Linked DNA regions of Homo sapiens: region 1 is linked to region 2. Evidence: fine-mapped expression QTL. Tissue or cell type: lung. Region 2 holds a variant in brackets; the other region holds the start of a gene. All regions are shown on one strand. Distances are between the middles of the regions.

Evidence for each region. PIP is the estimated chance that this variant, and not a neighbour inherited with it, causes the effect.
Region 1: GNAZ starts here. The variant in region 2 is fine-mapped to the expression of GNAZ in lung (TOPMed, PIP above 0.99).

What each region holds. Positions count from the first base shown.
Region 1 is chr22:23,066,504-23,074,503 of GRCh38, reverse strand. It overlaps GNAZ (G protein subunit alpha z), which reads right to left and starts at 3,985. Exons shown (of 3, transcript NM_002073.4): 1 at 3,934-3,985. All of the region lies in intron 4 of RSPH14 (radial spoke head 14 homolog), which reads left to right. RefSeq lists enhancers at 1,522-2,403, 2,404-3,284 and silencers at 3,891-4,030, 4,171-4,310.
Region 2 is chr22:23,000,859-23,012,128 of GRCh38, reverse strand. No RefSeq gene overlaps it. Among named protein-coding and RNA genes, the nearest start is that of GNAZ, 64 kb to the left of the region's middle. The variant A/T (reference allele first, on the strand shown) is at 6,009.

The DNA of each region.
Region 1 (8,000 bases), 64 kb before region 2:
CTCTCCAGGTCTCAGACCCACCTCCTAATTCCCCACCTCTCCAGAATGGGTTTTTCTGTATCTTGCTTCTCAGCCAATACCAGCTCCATCTTTCTACTGGTTCAGACCAAAACTGCAGCTGTCCTTTAAAAGCTGCAGCTTTAAAAAAACAAATCTCCCACCTGCATTTCTCAGGGCCTCCAGAGCTCCCACCCCTGGGTCAGCAGCCTCTCTGCCTGGGATGTTGCAGTAGCCCCTCATGGCCCCCAGCCTTACCCCACCCTAGCCTATTTTCCCACCTCAGCAGAGAGATCTTTTCAAAGTGTAGATTAGCTCCTCCTGGGAGGGCAGCTCCAGTCTCTTCTCTGCTCCAACCCTGCCAAGGTCTTCCTGCCTCATTGGGGCCCACTGAGTCCTGCAGGACCTGGCCCTGACACCCCACCCACACTCCTGCACCAGGTTCCAGCCACTCTGGTGGGGCCTCCAGGGGCCAGGGAGTGTCTGCTCAGCGCCTTTGCACCTGCTGTCTCTCCCCTGCTCAGCCACACCACTCACCCAGCACTTCTGCATGGCACTGTGTCAGTCCCCCACCCCCATCTCGTGTCCCCCACCTTCTGCTTTAGTGTTCTCCACAGTGCAGCACTTAGTAACATGTGTTACTGTCAACCCCTGCCCGTCTGGTGTGAGCACTGTGAGTGGATGCTACGTCCCTGCTGTACCCCTGCACCTGGCACAGTGCCTGGCATGCAGCAGGCGCTGGTAAATGTTAGCTGAACAAATGAATGGATGAATCGCGTGAGGTTCTGCTCCTCCGGCTCAGTCCAGAGGGCTGATGTCTCCTCCTATGTGCTCTAGGATCTGTCAAGCGGTCCCTGTTGGTTCAATCCTGTGAAGCGCCTCCCCTGGCGGTGTTCGCACGAAAGGGCCAAAATGTGTGGCAGGGGCTGGTGTGGGGACAGGGCAGGGCACTCTTGGCTTTGGGTATGGATGAGGATAATGAGGTTCAGAGAAAAAGGGGCTGGACCTAGGATGGTGGGACCAGGACCTGACTCCAGGTCTTCTGCCACCTAGACTGGAATGCTCACCTCACCACCCCGGAGCCACAACAGTCTGGGTGCTCCCACGTCCCTCTTCATTCTGCCCAGGCCGCAGCATAGCCTCTGCTCTGGGATTCTGCCTGGGGCTGACCCTTGGCATCTGCACTGACGCCTCTGTTCATTTCGCTTTGTGCTCCTTCCAGCCAAGCACAGTGCTCACAGGTGCTCAGAGGCTTGGCTACCCCAGGTTTCCTTGCTGGAGGGTTCGGGAGAGCAGCATGCTGACCTGCCTCCTCCAGTGTGCCCGTGCACCTGCCATGGTCAGCAGCAGTGAGAGTGCCTTTGCCACCACACACCGTCTTAAGTATTCTGAGGCTAGCGTGGGACAGACAGCACAGGGCTGCCTTCCTTGCCTCCAGGGGAGGAAGCCGCACACATGTGTTCACACACAAGATGACTAAATTCAGCATTCCTGAATTGCTATATTCAGCATTCCTGTCCCACTGGCCTCTCTGCGGGGGCCCTGGGCAGCCCTTGTGAAGTCAATCCAGTTACCTGCAAATTCCTGGAATTGTTCTAGAAGCTCCTGAGGGCCAGACTGAGACCCCACCCATACTCCTGCACCAGGTTCTGGCCACTCTGGTGGGGCCTCCAGGTCTCTGAGGTTCCTCCTGAGATTCTAGAAAACAAAAGGACTGAGAGGCTGGGGACAGAGGGAAGAATCCATTCCCTGTGTCCCAAACCCACAGTCACATGCCAGGTCCCTGCAACAGTCCAGGCGACAGGCACAGAGCACAGCAGCTCACCCTGCTCAGCACAGACTGCACACCCCACGAGGGCAGGCCCTGTTCTCGCTGCATCAACCTGGGCCTTGGCCAAAGCCAAGTGTGTGTTGGGTGGGGAGGGTAGGCACACTACAAAGATGAGTAACAAACAGCCCCTTCAGAGGGAGAGCAAAAACATCCCCAGAAATGAGGGAGCTGACTTAGGGGGGAAAGTGACACCAATTTCCGAGGGGGAGAAATTATGTCTTATTCACCTCCTGTCTCAGAAAATCAACGTCAGTTAGAGGAACACACAGGAAGACTTTTAAACCAGATGCCAGCATCTCCTCATTCCTAGAGAATGAGGCTTGCTCAAGGCGCATATTTTATCCAAGCACCGCCAGGCCATCCACACCCCCACTGCACCCCGTAGATGGATGCTCCCAGGCTGCCACGATTACTGCTCTCAAACATCCACATCCCAGAGGCACAGAGTCACTAGCTAAGCATCATCCCCGAAACAGGCAACTCAATCCTAACAAGGGGGTTGCCTGGGTGGTTACCCAGTGCCCTGGCTGTGCCCGAGGGAGAAGTGCCTGGAAGCACAGTCTCAGACTGCAAGGAGCCTTCCCCAGTCTTTAAAGCTAGCTCTTCTCCAGGCCCACCCCAGCTCATGGGGTCATGGAACTGCTTCGCTTTTACAGATGAGGAAGCCGTGGTCTCCACCATAGCCACAGTTAACCAGCAGTGGGGTCATTCCACTTCCCAGCTCCCTCAGCCCCGTGCAGCCCCCACCGGCCTTTCCCGCCATACCTCCTCCTACTCCCCAGGCATGCTAAGTGCTCCCATCAGACCTAACTGCCCAAGTGCCTCGGTCTATTCTCTCCTCTCTGCCCACAATGCCCAGCTTAGCTGTGCCCATGTCCTTCAAGCTCCAGTTCAAATGTCATGTTGCCCACGAGCTCACCTGACCCCCCAGCCCAGGACACCACTCTGAGGTCCCTCCCGAGGCCCCTGCACCTGCACTCAAGCGGGGTTGGTCGAGTAGAGACGTTTTCCCCTATGCGGTGGTCAATCAGTCCTGGGAGGGCAGGCCCAGTCCACTCCCACCCGGTGCACCCCAGCGTCAAGCTCTGGGGGAGTGACCACTCAATAAATATTTGCTTAATTGAATTTGGCCAAGGAGCCTTCTCCAGAGAGCTCAATCCCCAGGGCAGGGAAATCACTTGGGCAGAAAGGAGCCGGTCAGGGGCTCAGCTGTCTCCCCAAGCAAGACAGACCTCTCTACCAGGCGGGTCCCTCCACCCCAACACGGACTACGCGGAACGCTGGTCTCGCTTGGCATCATCCTCTTGTCTCAGTTAACAGGAGCCCCCATTCTCGGCCTAGGCCGAATCCTGCCATCATCACCCAGGAAGGCTCAGCACCGCCCTAAAGGCAGAGCCCCCTCGGATCGCCCGCAGGATACGGAGCGCCAGCCCTGAGGCCCTCACTCCCCTCCCCCAAACACCCCCACCGCCTTTTAAGGGAAAAAATATTGAGCCGGGAACGTATTACAATCGCAGCAGGTCGATACTCATCTCTTCCTCTAAATGCCTGTGAGGAACCTGCTCGCTGCAAGAGCAGTGACCGAGAACTGCTAGCTGTCCGTCTGCGGGCCCAGGTCCTCGGGCCCAGGCCTCTGGGGCCCTCTCCTCGGTTTCAGGCAAGGCCCTGCATCGGCTCCGGCCGCCCCTCCCTGATCCTCCCCCTAGGGAGACCCGCCTCAGCGCCGCTCCCGCAGCTCGCCTGGCCCGCCCGGGCTCCGCATCAGCCGCTGCTTGGGGGCGCCCGGCGGCCCCGCGCGGCATCCCCGGCGCCCTCTGTCCACCCTCCCGGGTCCTCAACCGCCCCCTCCCGCGGGGTCATCGGCTTGGCGGCGCATCCCTCCCCCAGCACCTGCCCGACCAGAGGCCGCCCCCTGCCCACCTCGCAGGCGTCCCCGCCCTTGGTGTCCCCCACCCCTGAGGGGCATCCCTGACGCTGCGTCCTGGCGGATCCGGGGCACAAAGGCCTGGGAAGAGTCCCAAGTGGGGGCAAGGTGGATGCCCCGGCCGTGCCCCCGACCCCTGAGGCTCAGCGGCGCGCGGCCGGCCGCGGGTCGGCTCACTCACCTCCGGGCCGCAGCACAGAGCATCTGCCGAGCTGCTCCGGGCAGGGCGGGGCGGGGCGGGGCGGCGAGCACGGGGCCGCGGCGCCCTCGTTCCGTACGACGCGGGCAGCGGCGCCCACGCGGGGACGTGACCGGACCGCGGGCGGCGCACACGCTCCGGCCGGCCTGGTTCCCTCCGCCCGCCCTCCCGCGCCGCCCGCCGCCCGCCGCCCGCCGCCAGTCCGCGGGTCCGCCCGCCCCGCGCCGCGCCGCCGCCGGCAGGGGGCGGAGCCGCGAGCGCAGCCCGTTGCCAGGCCAACCGCGGGCGGGGGGGTGCCGCGCGCCCGCCGGGCACCACGCGCCGGGCACCTCCGCCCCGCCACGAGCGCCGGCCCTCTGTCCATTGGGCACAGGCAGCTGACGGACGGGCCAGTAGCCCAATGGGGACGGACAGGGGCGGGGTCGCAGCTCCGCGCGCGCCGCAGTCCCGCAAGAGCTCCCCGCGCCGGCGTTCCACCGACTCCGCTGCGCTGAGGCCTGGTAGCCGAGCCCCAGGGGCCACCTCTGGCAGCCCGGGAAACCAAGCCTGAGCCCAGCCATGGTCCTGGCCCTCTTTACTGCAGCCAGTCCCGGCTCGCCTTCTCTCCACTCGGGTTCAAACCCAGTTCGGCCTCTTGTGAGCTCTACGTCCTTGGGCAACCGACTGACCTCTCTCAGCCTTTCTGTTTGCAAAGTGGGGCTAGTGGCACCTGCTTTCCTGGATTGTCTCACCAATCCTTCAGAACGTGTGAAAGGCCTATGCAAACCCTAACGATTTACACCGGTGAGGTTTGTGCAGCGATGGGAGGGAGCATTAGTCATCTCTGCCGCCGCCCCCCGCCGCCACCGCCCAGTGTCTAGGGGCTCTTTGGCGTCCCTGGCAATCCTGGCACACGGAAGGGTGGCCTTGGGAGGGAAGGAAGGGAGAAGGACCGAGGAGCTGGCCCCCAGCCCAGACAAGCGTGAGAGAGCCAGTTCAGTTAAGGCCACTGATTGGCGCTTTTGGGAAGCTGGTGGAAAGCATCAGACCCTCAGCAAAACGCAGCTGAACCCAGGCTGCAAAATTCTGTTTTCAATTTCAAAGCCTATCTGTGGACCTCAGGGCCAGGAGTCCCTCAGTTCCATGCTTAAAAGACTCTCAAGCCAGAGGGCCAAGACATGAATGCTCCTGTCTCTCTTCTCCATCTTTGTAAATCTGAAGCTTTGTGTATCCTAGAGCATCCCTGACAAAGTGCAAATGCCTTCCCAGCTAACGCGTTCCTTATCACCTCACACCTTTGTAAGGTGTGGATCATGCCATTCTTTGAGCAGCAGCCCTGGACCTGACCATGGCAGAGGTCCATGGAGCGGTCTCTCCATCATAGCTCTGTGGTGGAGGGGCAGGGGCATGTGCCTGGCTTTGCCAGCTGGACACTGTGGCATCTCAGCATCATCCCATAACCTCCCTAGGAATGTTTCCTCTTCTGTGAGATGGAGACCATTGCGTTACGTACCTGCAGGGTCATGGGCCACCTGTGAGGGTGCTGCCTCAACTGTCAGGAACAGGACGTATATTTGTTATGGGCATCATGGAGGCGAACTTAGTGCTCACTGGAGGTGTCCAGTGAGGACCAAGGGAATTCAGCCAATGGCTGAGGGGCTAGCTACCCTTTGTGCTTGCCTTCCACACCACCAGGCTGTGTCAGGCTGGACCTCTTGCCAGGAGGACCACACAGAGACCGGCAGCTGTGCTACCTGGCTGAGCCTCTGTTTCCTCTTCTGTCAAAAGGGAATGTAACAGACTGTGGTCAGAGGGTGGCTCTGAGGGTTAATGTTTATAGGAAATGCATATTAGCATGTCTTGGGATAGCCAGAGGCTGTTTCCACTGCAGAGTCTGGGGGTCAGAGTTGAATTGTTTGCAGAGGTAAGCCCACATGCAACAGTGAGATGGCCCTTTCCAGTGGTCCAGAGCAGAGGCTAGCCTGCGGAGGGGTCCACTGGGGCTGGCTGACACCTCCCTGACTTGACCTCAAAGTAAGAGAGGGACATCTCACCTGGCATCAAACCAATATTGTATTCATGCAGCAGTCACTTACAGATAGCCTCCTCCACCAGGGTATAGTTGTAGGCACAGTTCTAGGATTCAGACCGGCCCTTTTCTGGCAGACCCTCTGCCTGTAGGGCAGGGGCAGAAAGCAAACAACGATTGGGCCTTACAGTCATGTGAGGCTATCTGAGGAGACCCACTGGGGCTCTGGGGGCATGTGGAGTGGGGGAGCATTGGGCATTGGGCCAGCTTCCCAAAGGAAGAGATGCTTGGAATGAGGCCATAGCAGGCGTGGAGGTGGCCAGTGACATAGGGTGGGAGGGAAGTGAGTTCCAAGGCGGGGACGGTGCAGGACATGAAGGAGCACGAGGCCAGGAAGAACCCAGAGAAGACCAGTGTGGCTGGGGCCAGGGTCGTTGCCCATGCACAGATGCCAGCTTGGGGCAGTAGGATCAGGGACGTTGGCCTAAGAACTGCTCGAGAGTTTTAACATTAGTCTTTTAAATTTGAGAAGGAGGAGGAGAAGTTTTTAATTGCCTGTTTACAGTAGGCGTGGTCCCACAGACAATGTGAGTTGTCCTACTGGACATAATAAAATAACAAAAACATCAGTTAGTCAGTCCAGAGGAAGTGGGAGTGAGCACAGAAGTCAGTCTGTGAGGCTGAGTTCAGTGTACGGTCTGCTGTGGCTGTGAGATGGCAGGGAGACCAAGAGCATGTTAGGAGACAGTGGCGGGGCATTATCAGGACCCAGGGAGATGAGAGAAGGGGAGAGGGTGGGGACCACTGGAGGAAGAGATGGTGCTTACCAAAAAGATGGAGGAGCAGTTGGGGAGGTGGTCAGGAACCAGAGAATGGAGGGTACCAGAGGCACGGGAAGAGAGCATGTGGTAAAGGAAGAAGCTGTTAACCATGCTCCCAGCTACCTGGAAGCCGAGAAAGCTGAGGACAGAGAAGCACCCCTTGGAGCAAAGGCAGGCCCAGTGGGCCAGGAGTTCAGGGCACAGGGCCATGCAAGGCTAAAGCTGGACAGGTGGGTCACCTGCGGCAAGGTGGGCCCCAGATGCCATGTGTGGATGTGCAGTCCCCTAACAGGAAAGGGTGTGGCTGCGACCAGAACCTGGGTGCTGGTGCTCTGTCCTGAGCCCTCATTGGCTGGGAGACAACAGCTGGGGCTTTGCTGTAGCCAGAGGAAGGGGGCCATGGTGGTGACTGAGCCCACTCAGCACCTCCCCAACCCAGCAGGCACAGCTGGCTGAGGAGTGGCCCCTCAACATGGTGTCAGCACCCGCCCTGCCCCACCACAAAGAAAATGACCCAGACTCCACCACTGGGGCTCCACACCATGGACATCCGTGACCCCTCAATCCCATTGGATCTCTTTGGCTCATCAACCACTGAACCCATCCTAGCCCCTACATATCAGCCAGGCCAGATCGGGGACTCCCCACAAACACATACATTTGAGCCCTGCTGTTCTGGGCTCTCCTCCACATCCATGAGAACCAGCTTCCCCGGGGCCTCCCTTTGTGCACCTCCAGAGCCCCTAGGACCCTGGAATTCCTGGTCTACACACATGTCAACCTGTTCTGTAGTGACCTGTCCCCAGCTGACTATTCCACTAGTTTTCCCACTTCCCGGGGGTGGGGTGGGCATATGTTGCTTGTCTCTAAACCATGGATGGCCCAGAGCCTGGCCTGCTCTGGTGCCACCCCATCTGGCTGATTCTCTGTGCCCCACCTGTCCTACCTCTTCTGCAACCACCCCCCACCCCCAGCGGACGCTCAGGCTGCCGCCCAGTTGGGTGGATTTCCCCGATTGTTTCCCTGGGGTCTGTGTGCCCCACCCCCACTTGAGCAAGCCATCGCAGATCTGGGTTAGTTATAAATAGCCAGGCCCGAGACTCTTCTTTTAGCTGAAAAGAAGCAAAGTGAACGAGCAGAAAGGCACACCCGGCACGCGTTTTATTTTTAATCTTCTCCCTCTGTCTCAAAATGAACCCCGGTCCCTGTGCTAAGCATTT
Region 2 (11,270 bases):
CACATTCAGGCGCTTGATCTCTTTAATTCAGTGAGTGACTTATGCTTAGTTTTAGTCCATCCTGTTTTCTCTCTTTAATGTCCTTCATGATCTCTTGTTGGATTCTTATCTTGCCCTTCTGTGTCACAATTTCCTAATTTCCCTTTAATTCCCTTTCTTAAAAATTTTTATCATTATTTTTTAAGACAGGGTGGAGTGCAATGGCATGATCATAGCTCACTGCAGCCTGGATCTCCCAGGCTCAAGCAGTCTTCCCACAGCCTCCTGAGTAGCTGGGACTACAGGTGTGTGTCATCACACCTGGCTAATTTTAAAAATGTTTGTAGAGACAGAGTTTGCCATGGTGCCCACACTGGTCTCAAACTCCTGAGCTCAAAGGATCCTCCTGCCTCAGCCTCCTGAAGTGCTGGGATTATAGGCATGAGCCACTGCACCTGACCTGGAAGCAACAGTTAACAGCCAGCAGAGCTCCCCCTGGCCCAGCTGTGACAACCCAGAATGCCTCCAAACATTACCAAGTGCCCTCTGGGAAGAAAAATCCAATTCCCACTCCTCTGCACTGTGAACCACTGATTGAGGGCATTCTGTGCCTCACTTTGATTCTTTCCCCTTGGTCTCTGGTGAACTGCCAGGGAAACACCCAGCATCTGAGATTTGCACTGTTGCTGGAAAGAAGGAGTGGTGAGAGCTTCCACTCTCAGAACCTAGGCAGTAGCTGCCTAGGACAGAACTGCCCCTACAAAAGATTCCATCTGATCAGGCCTGACCAGGTGGCCCATGGCTGCTGCCTCCCCATCATTTGTCTTCTGTGCTCCCAGTCTTTTACCTGGTGGCCTGCAGTGTCCCTCCCCACCGCAGACATAATCGCTGTTGTCCCTGTCAGACCCCTGGGAGGGACCCAGCCAGCCCAAGCTGATTTCTAGTGGGAGGACACTACTTAGGCCCCCCGTCTCTGTTCTTTTCATTGTTCAGTCTCCTCAGGTCTTAGCAATGTCATTTACAGACTTAGGGTAAGTGCAAAAGCTGGAGACTGCTGCTTCAATGTCTACAAACTCTATAAAGAGTTTTTCTACAAACTGCAGAGATGTTAGGTAGAATGACATCTCTGTCATTCACAGAGATAGACTTCTCTATCTTTAGGTAGAATGACTTCTCTGTCATCCACTAAGTAGAGTGTGCCAATGTAAGTACTTGTGTGGTTAGAGTAACCTCACCTGAGATGGTATGAATGCCAGCAATTTTCAGCGAGATTGTGATCAGTTAAACACCCATTTCCTAAACTATCTTCATGAACACGGCAGAAGAGCAAACCTCCAACTGAAATGAATACGGAGTCAGCAGGCTGCACTTTCACTTCCAACTGAATCCACAGTGATTCCACAAAGACACTGACCTTAGAAGCCATCTACCAGAGGTGGTATCTGAATAGCACTACATCACCAGTGGACACTGGGTAAGGTTCATCCGTTTTGTTGAGCATAGGCTTGTGCCCCATGAGTTCAGCCAAGGTTAGTACTTTTAGGGCTTGAGTTAACCCCATTCTTCCAGTGGCACAACTTAGCCTCTTCCACTCTGGAGCTTCAGAGAGGGAATTAGTTCAGAGAGTTAGTTGTTTTTACAGTTCCACCACTGGAAAAAGGGAACGGGAATGACTTCTCAGGGATCAGCAAACTTTTCCTGTAAAGGCAAGTTTGCTGGTCACATACCATCTCTCTTTTTTTTTTTTTTTTTTTTTTTACAACCTTTTAAAACTATAAAAATCATTCTTAGCTTCAGAGCTGCACAAAGCCCATCATTATCCAGATTGGCCTGCTGACCAGATTTGTTGACCCCTGGCTCAGTTGACACTGATTTTGAAACATCTGCACATCATTTAACTGGATAACCCCTTGCTTTGTTATTCTGATCTCCAAAGCCAGGGATAAAATGGACAGATTCATCTATCCATTTATTCACTAACTACTTACTGAGTGCCAACCATGTCATAGACACTCAGCAGTGTTCAGAAGACACAAGTTACCAAAACTCAGTTGCCATCCTCAAGAGCTTATGTTTAATGGAGACAAACCACAAAATAGGCATTTTCTATGCAGTGTGATAAGTGCCACTATTCCAGTTATTCAGAAAACATTTATGAAGTACCTTATGTGCTAAACATGTTCTCAGTACAGGGGGAAGGTAACGCAGTGAACAAGGCAGGAGGCCCTTGGTCTCAGGAAGCTTGCACTGAAGTGGAGAAGCCAGATAAGCAAGCAGATAAATTGCTTTCACATGGTGGCAGGCATTTCACAGAAAATAAAAACAGCAGTGAAGCTGGGTGCAGTGGTGCACACCTATAATCACAGCTTCTTGGGAGGCTCAGGAGGGGGATTGCTTGAGCCCAGGAGTTCAAGTTCAAGTGTTCCTAGACCAAAACGAGGATCAGGCTGCTTACTCTCGTGGCCCAATAATGAGATGCAGATGAACTGGGAAAGAAGAGTTTTTTATTTATGTAACTGGTTACAGGGAGAAGGCCTGGAAATTATCAAAATTTGGACTAACTCAAAATTACAGTTTTCTAGAACTTATGTGCCTTCTAAGCTATATGTCTACGTGTAAGTGTGCATTTATCTAAAGACATAAGTGCTAACTTTTATTCTGTAACTGAGATCTGAGTCCTGAAGACCTTCCTCTGGAGCCTTAGTAAATTTTCTTAATCTAAATGGGCCCAGGTGCTGGGGCAATTACCCTTATCTTGTCTCCTGCTAAATCATGGAGGTTTGATGAGTTCTTGCAGACCTCCAATAAACTTGTTTGTGGAGACCTGGGGGGTTTCTTCAGACCCCCAATGAAACTTGCTTAATTCTAAATGGGTCCTTTTAAGAATTCCTTTTTTATCTCATCATGCTTCAAGGCCCAGGAAAGGCCTGGACAAAACTCTTGGTGAGCCTTTGTTACATTCCAGCATTTGTATTAGAGCACTGGCTCTATCAGCTTTTAATATTTAACTTAACCACTCAGTCAGTGCTGAAACAGTTGTTACAGAGGCCTGCGTTAGTGAGACCTGGCCTGCCGCAGCAGTGAATGATGATCACATTTATGAATAGCCACTGCACTCCAGCCTGGGCAACATAGCAAGACCCTGTCTCTAATTAAAGACAAAAACCAAGACCTGAGTAATGGAGTAGAGATGAATTGGGTGCATCCTTGGAAGGCCCCTTCAAGGAAGTGCTATTTTTCTTTCAAGGAATAATACAAGGAGTTAGCCATGCAAGATCTGAGGGAAGAACATTCCAGACACAGTACAGAGCAAGTCTAGAGGGTTTTGATTTGGAATAAGCTTGCTGGACTTGAGAATCAATGAGGCAAGCAGTGTGACTAGAGCACAGTGTGTAACCATTAGGAAATAAGGAGATCCATTTAGAAAGGTAGACTGGGGCTTCCGCAGGACAGCCTTTAAAAGCCAGAACAAGTTTAAGTTTTGTACAGGTGGTGAAAATTCCTGGATTCTTTTAAGCACATGACCTACTGATATGAGATGGGTAAGCCCAAGGTTCCTGGGAATACAGAGGAGGGACCTGTAACCTAGGCTTGGGAGGTAAAGAAGATGCTTCTTTTATTTTTTGTGAATGTGAAGTCATTTTTTTCTACTCTGGCTTCACAACAAAGGCCAACAAGTAATTTAGAGGACCCAGAGTAAATCGCTGGGACAAATCCAGCATAATCTTGAGTCCTGCCTCTTGCTTTTTTTTCTTGGTTCTGTTTCTTGGGCTGGATTTTACACAACTCACTGGTATCTTATTGAAGATACAGAGGAATAAATACAGAATGGAGAGAAGGATCTCACTCTGATAGCTACCAAACCTATTCTTGAAATATTCTGGCACTGTCACCACCTGTACAAGCAATGAGACAAGTCACCATCAACAGTGAGTGCTGAAGAGGCAGACCCAGGGGGATGAGTCTTGCTCACAAGTTCTGGTTGTTAGAGACATGGCTGATTCTGGGAGTAGCCCAAGAATTCAAGATGGGGAGTCACTGCCCCTGGCATCTGTTAAGATGGGAGAAATAAGAAAGGAGAATAAACACCACTGTCTCCCAGGAGTTTGGAATCCAGCTTCTTGTGCAATATTTGATGCAGAAGAAAATCCAGCTGAGAATGGTAATGATGACAAATCCCTTTTATGGAATAATCATAGAGCAAAATCAAGTGCTTAATCACATAGTACAAAGATAGCCAGTGTTCAAGAGAGACAGGTCCTGACTACACAGCTCTGTGACTTGTCCTGTGCCAACACTGCCGGTGTGCATGCTGGTGTCCCATACAATCCTGCTGTATCTCAGGCTGTGCACACCAAGACGACAAGAACCATGCCCTTTTTGTTCACTATATTCCTGGACCATAGCTCAGTGCCTGGCTCATGGTAGGTGAATAGATACTAATGAATATTGTTCCACTTTCTATCCTGACTATTCTCATATGTTCTTGTCCACTGACCTCAAACATGTCTATTTTAAGTTCTATCTCAAATTCTACCTGCTTTATCAAGACTTACCTGGGGACTTCACAAGAACCATATGCCCTCTTCTTCTAAATACCTGTAGCTTTTATTATTTTCACCTTTGATTTGGCTCTAAATCGTAGATGGCTTACTTTTTTAGCAAGGTCCCAAGCTTCCCAAGCTGTTTCACACTTACTACTTATATCTTTGCTAGGGCTGCCATAACAAAGTAAACTGTTCATTCTGCACTGCCTTGCCTTTTCTGCAGAAGCCTCAATAAAGGCAGTATCCCAACCCTTCCCTTTGTCTTTTTCCTCCTGACCACCTGATGTCTTTCCCATGTGGTCCTGCATGGCATGCCATGCCTCCTGTCTCTAGGACCTGTGAGTATAATAAACTTTTTTTTTCTGAGCTTCTATGTCTCCTCCTGTGGCTGCACCCAACCCATCTGACTGGCTCATAAAGAATACAAAATAGAGTGTGTAGTGGTATCTTATTTATTTACTTAGTTTAGAAATGGTGTCTTGTTCTGTTGCTCCAACTGGCCTTGAGCTCTTGGGCTCAATCAGTCCTCCCACCTTGGCCTCCCAAGTAGCTGGGACTATAGGCGTGTGACACCATGCCCAGCTTGGTATCTTATTTGAATTAGCATTTCCCTAATGATTAATAACCTTTTAATTATTTGCCATTTGTATATATCTTTTGGTTAAACATCTGTTCAAACCTTCTTCTTAACTGAGTTACAAGTTTTAAATATGTACAGATTCTGGATATAAGTGTTTTATTGTAAATATGTTTTACAAATATTTTATTTTTTATTTTTTTTATTATACTTTAAGTTCTAGGGTGCATGTGCACAACGTGCAGGTTTGTTACATATGTATACATGTGCCATGTTGGTGTGCTGCACCCATTAATTCATCATTTATATTAGGTATATCTCCTAATGCTATCCCTCCCCCCTCCCCCCACCCCATGACAGGCTGCGGTGTGTGATGATCCCCTTTCTGTGTCCAAGTGTTCTCATCGTTCAATTCCCACCTATGAGTGAGAACATGCAGTGTTTGGTTTTCTGTCCTTGAGATAGTTTGCTCAGAATGATGGTTTCCAGCTTCATCCATGTCCCTGCAAAGGACATGAACTCATCTTTTTTATGACTGCATAGTATTCCATGGTGTATATGTGCCACATTTTCTTAATCCAGTCTACCCTTGATGGGCATTTGGGTTCGTTCCAAGTCTTTGCTATTGTGAATACTGCCACAATAAACATACATGTGCATGTGTCTTCATAGCAGCATGATTTATAATCCTTTGGGTATATACCCAGTAATGGGATGGCTGAGTCAAATGGTATTTCTAGTTCTAGATCCTTGAGGGATAGCCACACTGTCTTCCACAATGGTTGAACTAGTTTACAGTCCCACCAACAGTGTAAAAGTGTTCCTATTTCTCCACATCCTCTCCAGCACCTGTTGTTTCCTGACTTTTTTTTTTTATACTTTAAGTTTTAGGGTACATGTGCACA[A/T]TGTGCAGGTTAGTTACATATATATACATGTGACATGCTCGTGCGCTGTACCCACTAACTCGTCATCTAGCATTAGGTATATCTCCCAATGCTATCTCTCCCCTCTCCCCCCACCCCACAACAGTCCCCAGAGGTTTAATGATTGCCATTCTAACTGGTGTGAGATGGTATCTCATCGTGGTTTTGATTTTCATTTCTCCGATGGCCAGTGATGATGAGCATTTTTTCATGTGTCTTTTGGCTGCATAAATGTCTTCTTTTGAGAAGTGTCTGTTCATATCCTTCGCCCACTTTTTGATGGGGTTGTTTGATTTTTTCTTGTAAATTTGCTTAAGTTCTTTGTAGATTCTGGACATTAGCCCTTTGTCAGATGGGTAGATTGCAAAAATCTTCTCCCATTCTGTAGGTTGTCTATTCACTCTGAGGATAGTTTCTTTTGCTGTGCAGAAGCTCTTTAGTTTAATTAGATCCCATTTGTCAATTTTGGCTTTTGTTGCCATTGCTTTTGGTGTTTTAAACATGAAGTCTTTGCCCATGCCTATGTCCTGAATGGTATTGCCTAGGTTTTCTTCTAGGGTTTTTATGGTTTTAGGGCTGACATTTAAGTCTTTAATCCATCTTGAATTAATTTTTGTTTTACAAATATTTTCTCCCAGTCTCTAGCTAGACTAGTTTTACTTTTTTCTTTTATTTTTAATTGACACGTAATAATTGTATATGTTTATGGGATACAGAATAATATTTTAATACATGTATACAATATGGAATGATAAAATAAAGGCAATTAGCATAATGATCACCTTGAACATGTAATACTTCTTTGTGTTGTGGACATTCAAAATTCTCTTCTCTAGCTTCTCAAACATATACACTAATTGTTTTTAACTATCTTTACCTTATAGTGCTACAGAACACTAGAACTTATTCCTCCCATCAGCTGTGTAACTTCAGATTGTTAACCAACCTCTATCTTCTCCAGACCGCCCACTCTTCCCATTTATATCAGCTCAATTTTTTAAATTCCCGTATAGAAATGAGAACATGTGATATGTATTTTTCTGTTTCTGACTTATTTCTCTTAGTATAATTTCCTCCAGGATCATCCATGTTGCTGGGAATGACAAGACTTTATTCTTTTTTTTTTTTGGCTGGATAGTATTCCAGTGTGTAAATATACCACATTTAAAAAATCCATTCATTTTTTGATAGACATTTAGGCTGATTCATTATCTTGGCTATTGTGAACAGCACTGCAGTAAAATGGGTGTGCAGATGTACGTATGTCTTCAACATACTGCTTTCCTTCTGTTTGGATAAATACCCAGTAGCAAAACTGCTGGATTATGTGATATTTCTATTTTTAGTTTTTTGAGAAACTTCCATACTGTTTTCTGTGATGGCTGTACTGATTTACATTCCTACCAATAGTGTATAAGAGTTCCATTTTCTCCATTTCTTCACTAGCATTTGCTAGTGTCTTTTTGATAATTGCCATTCTAACTGGGGTGAGATGTGGTTTCGATTTGCATTTCCCTGAGTGTTAGTGATGTTGAAGATTTTTAGTATACTTTTGACCATTTAAATGGCCTCTTTTGAGAAATGTGTACTCAGATACTTTGCTAATCTTAAAATTGGATTATTTGGGGTTTTTGCTGTTGAGTTGTTTGAGTTCCTTGTGTATTCTGGATATTAGTCCTTTGTTGGATGAATAGTTTGCAAATATTTTCACCCATTTAACTGGCTGTCTCTTTACTCTGCTGATTGTTTCCTTTTCTGTGCAGAAGCTTTTAGGTTTGACATAGTCCCATTTGTCCATTTTTGTTTTTGTTGCCTGTGCTTTACCCATAAAATAAAGTTTTACCTATTAAATCTTACCTATAAAATTGTTTATTTGTATAAATTTATGAGGTACAAGTGTAACTTTGTTACATGTATAGATTGCATAGTGGTGAAGTTACTCATAAAATCTTGGTCTAGACCAATGTCCTGAAGCAGTTCTCCTATATTTTCTTCTAGTTTTATAGTTTCAGGTCTTACATTTAAATCTTTAATACATTTTGAGTTGCTTTTCATATATGGTGAGAGATAAGGATCTAGTTTTATTCTTCTGCATATGGATATCCAGTTTTTCCAGCACCACTAATTGAAGAGGGTGTTGTCTCTCTAATGTATGTTGTTGATGCCTTTGTTAAAGATCAGTAGGCTGTAAATATGTGAATGTATTTCTGGGTTCTCTATTCTGTTCCATTGGTGTGTGTGTCTATTTTTATACTAATATGATGCTGTTTGGGTTACTATAGCTTTTTAGTATATTTTAAAGTCAGGTAGAGTGATGCCTCCAATTTTGTCCTTTGTTCTCAGTATTTCTTTAGTTACACAAAGTCTTTGGTTCGATGCAAATTTTATCATTTTTTTTCTATTTCTGTAAAGAATGTTGGTATTCTGATAGGACTTACTTTTAATCTGTAGATTGCTTTGAGTAGTATGGTTATTTTAACAATATTCATTAAAATCCATGATCATGGGATATCTTTACATTTTTTGGTGTCCTCTTCAATTTCTTTCATTAGCATTTTGTAGTTTTCATTGTAGATATAGTTTATCTCCTTGATTAAATGTCATCTTTGGTATTTTATGTTTTTGGTAGCTATTCTATGTGGAATTAATTTCTTGATTTCTTTTTCAGCTAGTTCATTGTTGGTGTATAGAAATGCTACTGATTTTTGTATGTTAATTTTATATCCTGAACATCACTGAATTTATCAGTTCCAATGTTACCAGTGGCAGAGGTCCGAGTTACCCTGAGTTACCAGCAGCCTATCCATAAGGGTCCATAGCAACTTCAATTCTTGCCACCTCAGAAGAAAGAATTCCACTGAGGGGCATAAAGCAGAAAAAGAGACCAAGGCAAATTCCAGTGTGTAAATGGAGGTTTATTCAAAAAGGCCTTAGAACAGGAAATAAAGGAAAGTGCGCTTGGAAGAGGGCCCTTAAAGGTTAAAGGGAGAAGGTCAAGTGCTCTGTTTAACTGTGATCCTAGGACTTTTATAAGTTCACCTCTTTCCCATGATTCTTCCCTTAAAGTGGGCTTTCTGTGTACCCAGTGCTTTCCTTACCCTTTGGGATTGAGCTTGCACAGTATGTTTAGGGGGTTATACACATGCCCATCTGAGGCTTTCTTCCCTCTTCTGTTGTAGTGTGCCCCTGGAAGATCATACTTCACCATTTTTACTCTTAACATGCATGCCCAGAAAGTTGCTTACCCTGGGGTCTGCATTCAGTTAACATTTTGATATTAACAGGTGTGGATCATCAGGAAATGGCCTCTCCCTGGCGCTGCTGAATTATCATTTTTAGAGAAGCAATGTGACAATTGCTGAACCATCACCCAGCATTCCCAGCATTTCTAGTGGGTGTGGGGGGAGAGCCCTCTCCTCTCCCACTCATGCCTAACTACCTGTACCCTAAGAGATTTTTGGTGGAATCTTTAGGTATATATATATGTGTATATATGTACATATACATATGAACATGATCATGTTGTCTGCAAAAAGGGACAATTTGCCTTCCTCTTTTCCGAATTGGATGTCCTATATTCCTTTCTCTTGCCTAATTACTCTGGCTAGGACTTCTAGTACTATGTTGAATAAGATCAGTGAAAGTAGGCTTCCTTTTCTTCCAGATCTTAGAGGAAAGGCTTTTAGCTTTTCCTCATACAGTATAAAGTTTTTGTGGGTTTGTCATGTAAGTTTTTATTATGGAGGGATGTTGAAATTTATCAAATACTTTTTCTGCATCTATTGAGATGATCATATAGATTTTGTCCTTCATTCTGTTGATGGGATGTATCACATTTATTGATTTGTGCATGTTGAACAACCCTTGCATTCCTGAGATAAATCCTGCTCTATTATGGTGTATTTTTTGATGTGTTGTTGGATTCAGCTTGCTATTATTTTATTGTGGATTCTTGTATCTCATGAGGGATATTGGCCTGCAGTTGTTTTTGTTTTTTTTTTTTAAATTGTGTCTCTGTCTGGTTTTGGTACCAGACAGAGTACTGACACTCTGGCCAGAGTATGCTGGCCTCACATAATGAGTTGGGAAGAATTCCTTCCTCTTCAATGTTTTGGAATAGTTTGAGGAGAACTGGTGTTAGTCCTTCTTGGGAATTTTGGTAGAATTCAGCAGTGCAGACACCCAGTCCTCAGATTTGATGGTAGAATTTTTATTACTGATTGATATGGTTTGGGTTTGTGTCCCTGCTCAAATCTCATATCAAATTGTAATCCCCAGTGTTGGAGGAGGGACCTGGTGAGAGGTGATTGGATCATGGGGGTGGATTTCCCCCTTGTTGTTCTCATGATAGTGAGTGAATTTTCACAAGATCTGGTTGTTTAAAAGTGTGTAGTGCCTCCCCCTTCAGTCTCTCTTCCTCCTTCTCTGGCCATGTAAGACATACTTGCTTCCTCTTCACCTTCTGCCTAAGTTTCCAGTGGCCTTCCCAGTCATGCTTTTTGTACAGTCTGTGGAACTGTGAGTCAAGTAAACCTCTTTTATTTATAAATCACCCATTATTGGGTAGTTTTCTTTATAGCAGTGCAAGGATGGACTAATAGAGAAAACTGGTACCAGAGAAGTGGGGGATTCCTATAAAAATACCTGAAAATGTGGAAGTGACTTTGGAATTGGGTAATGGGCAGAGTGTGGGGGGCTCAAAGGAAGACAGAAAGGTGAGGGCAAGTTTGGAACTTCCTAGAGACTTGTTAAATTGTTGTGACCGAAATGCTGATGGTGATATGGATAATAAAGTCTGGGTTGAGGAGGTCTCAGGTGGAGATGAGGAACTTATTGAGAAATGGAGCCAAGGCCACTTTTGTTATGTGTGAGTAAAGAGATGATCTGAAACTGGAACTTATATTCAAAAGGGAAGCAGAGTGTAATAGTTTGGAAAATTTGCATCCTGGCCATGTGGTAGAAAAGAAAAACCCATTTTCTGGGAGGAATTCAAACTGGCTGCAGAAATTTGCATATGTAAAGAGGAACCAAATGTTGATAACCAAGATAATTGGGAAAATACCTGGAAGGCATTTTAGAGACCTTTGTGGCAGCTGTCCCATCACATGCCTGGAGGCCTAGAAGGGAAGAATGGTTTTGTGGGCCAGGCCCAGGGACCTGTTGTTTTGTGCAGCCTTGAGGCACTGCTCCCTGCATCCCAGATGCTCCAGCTCCAGCCATGGCTAAAAGAGCACCAGACACATC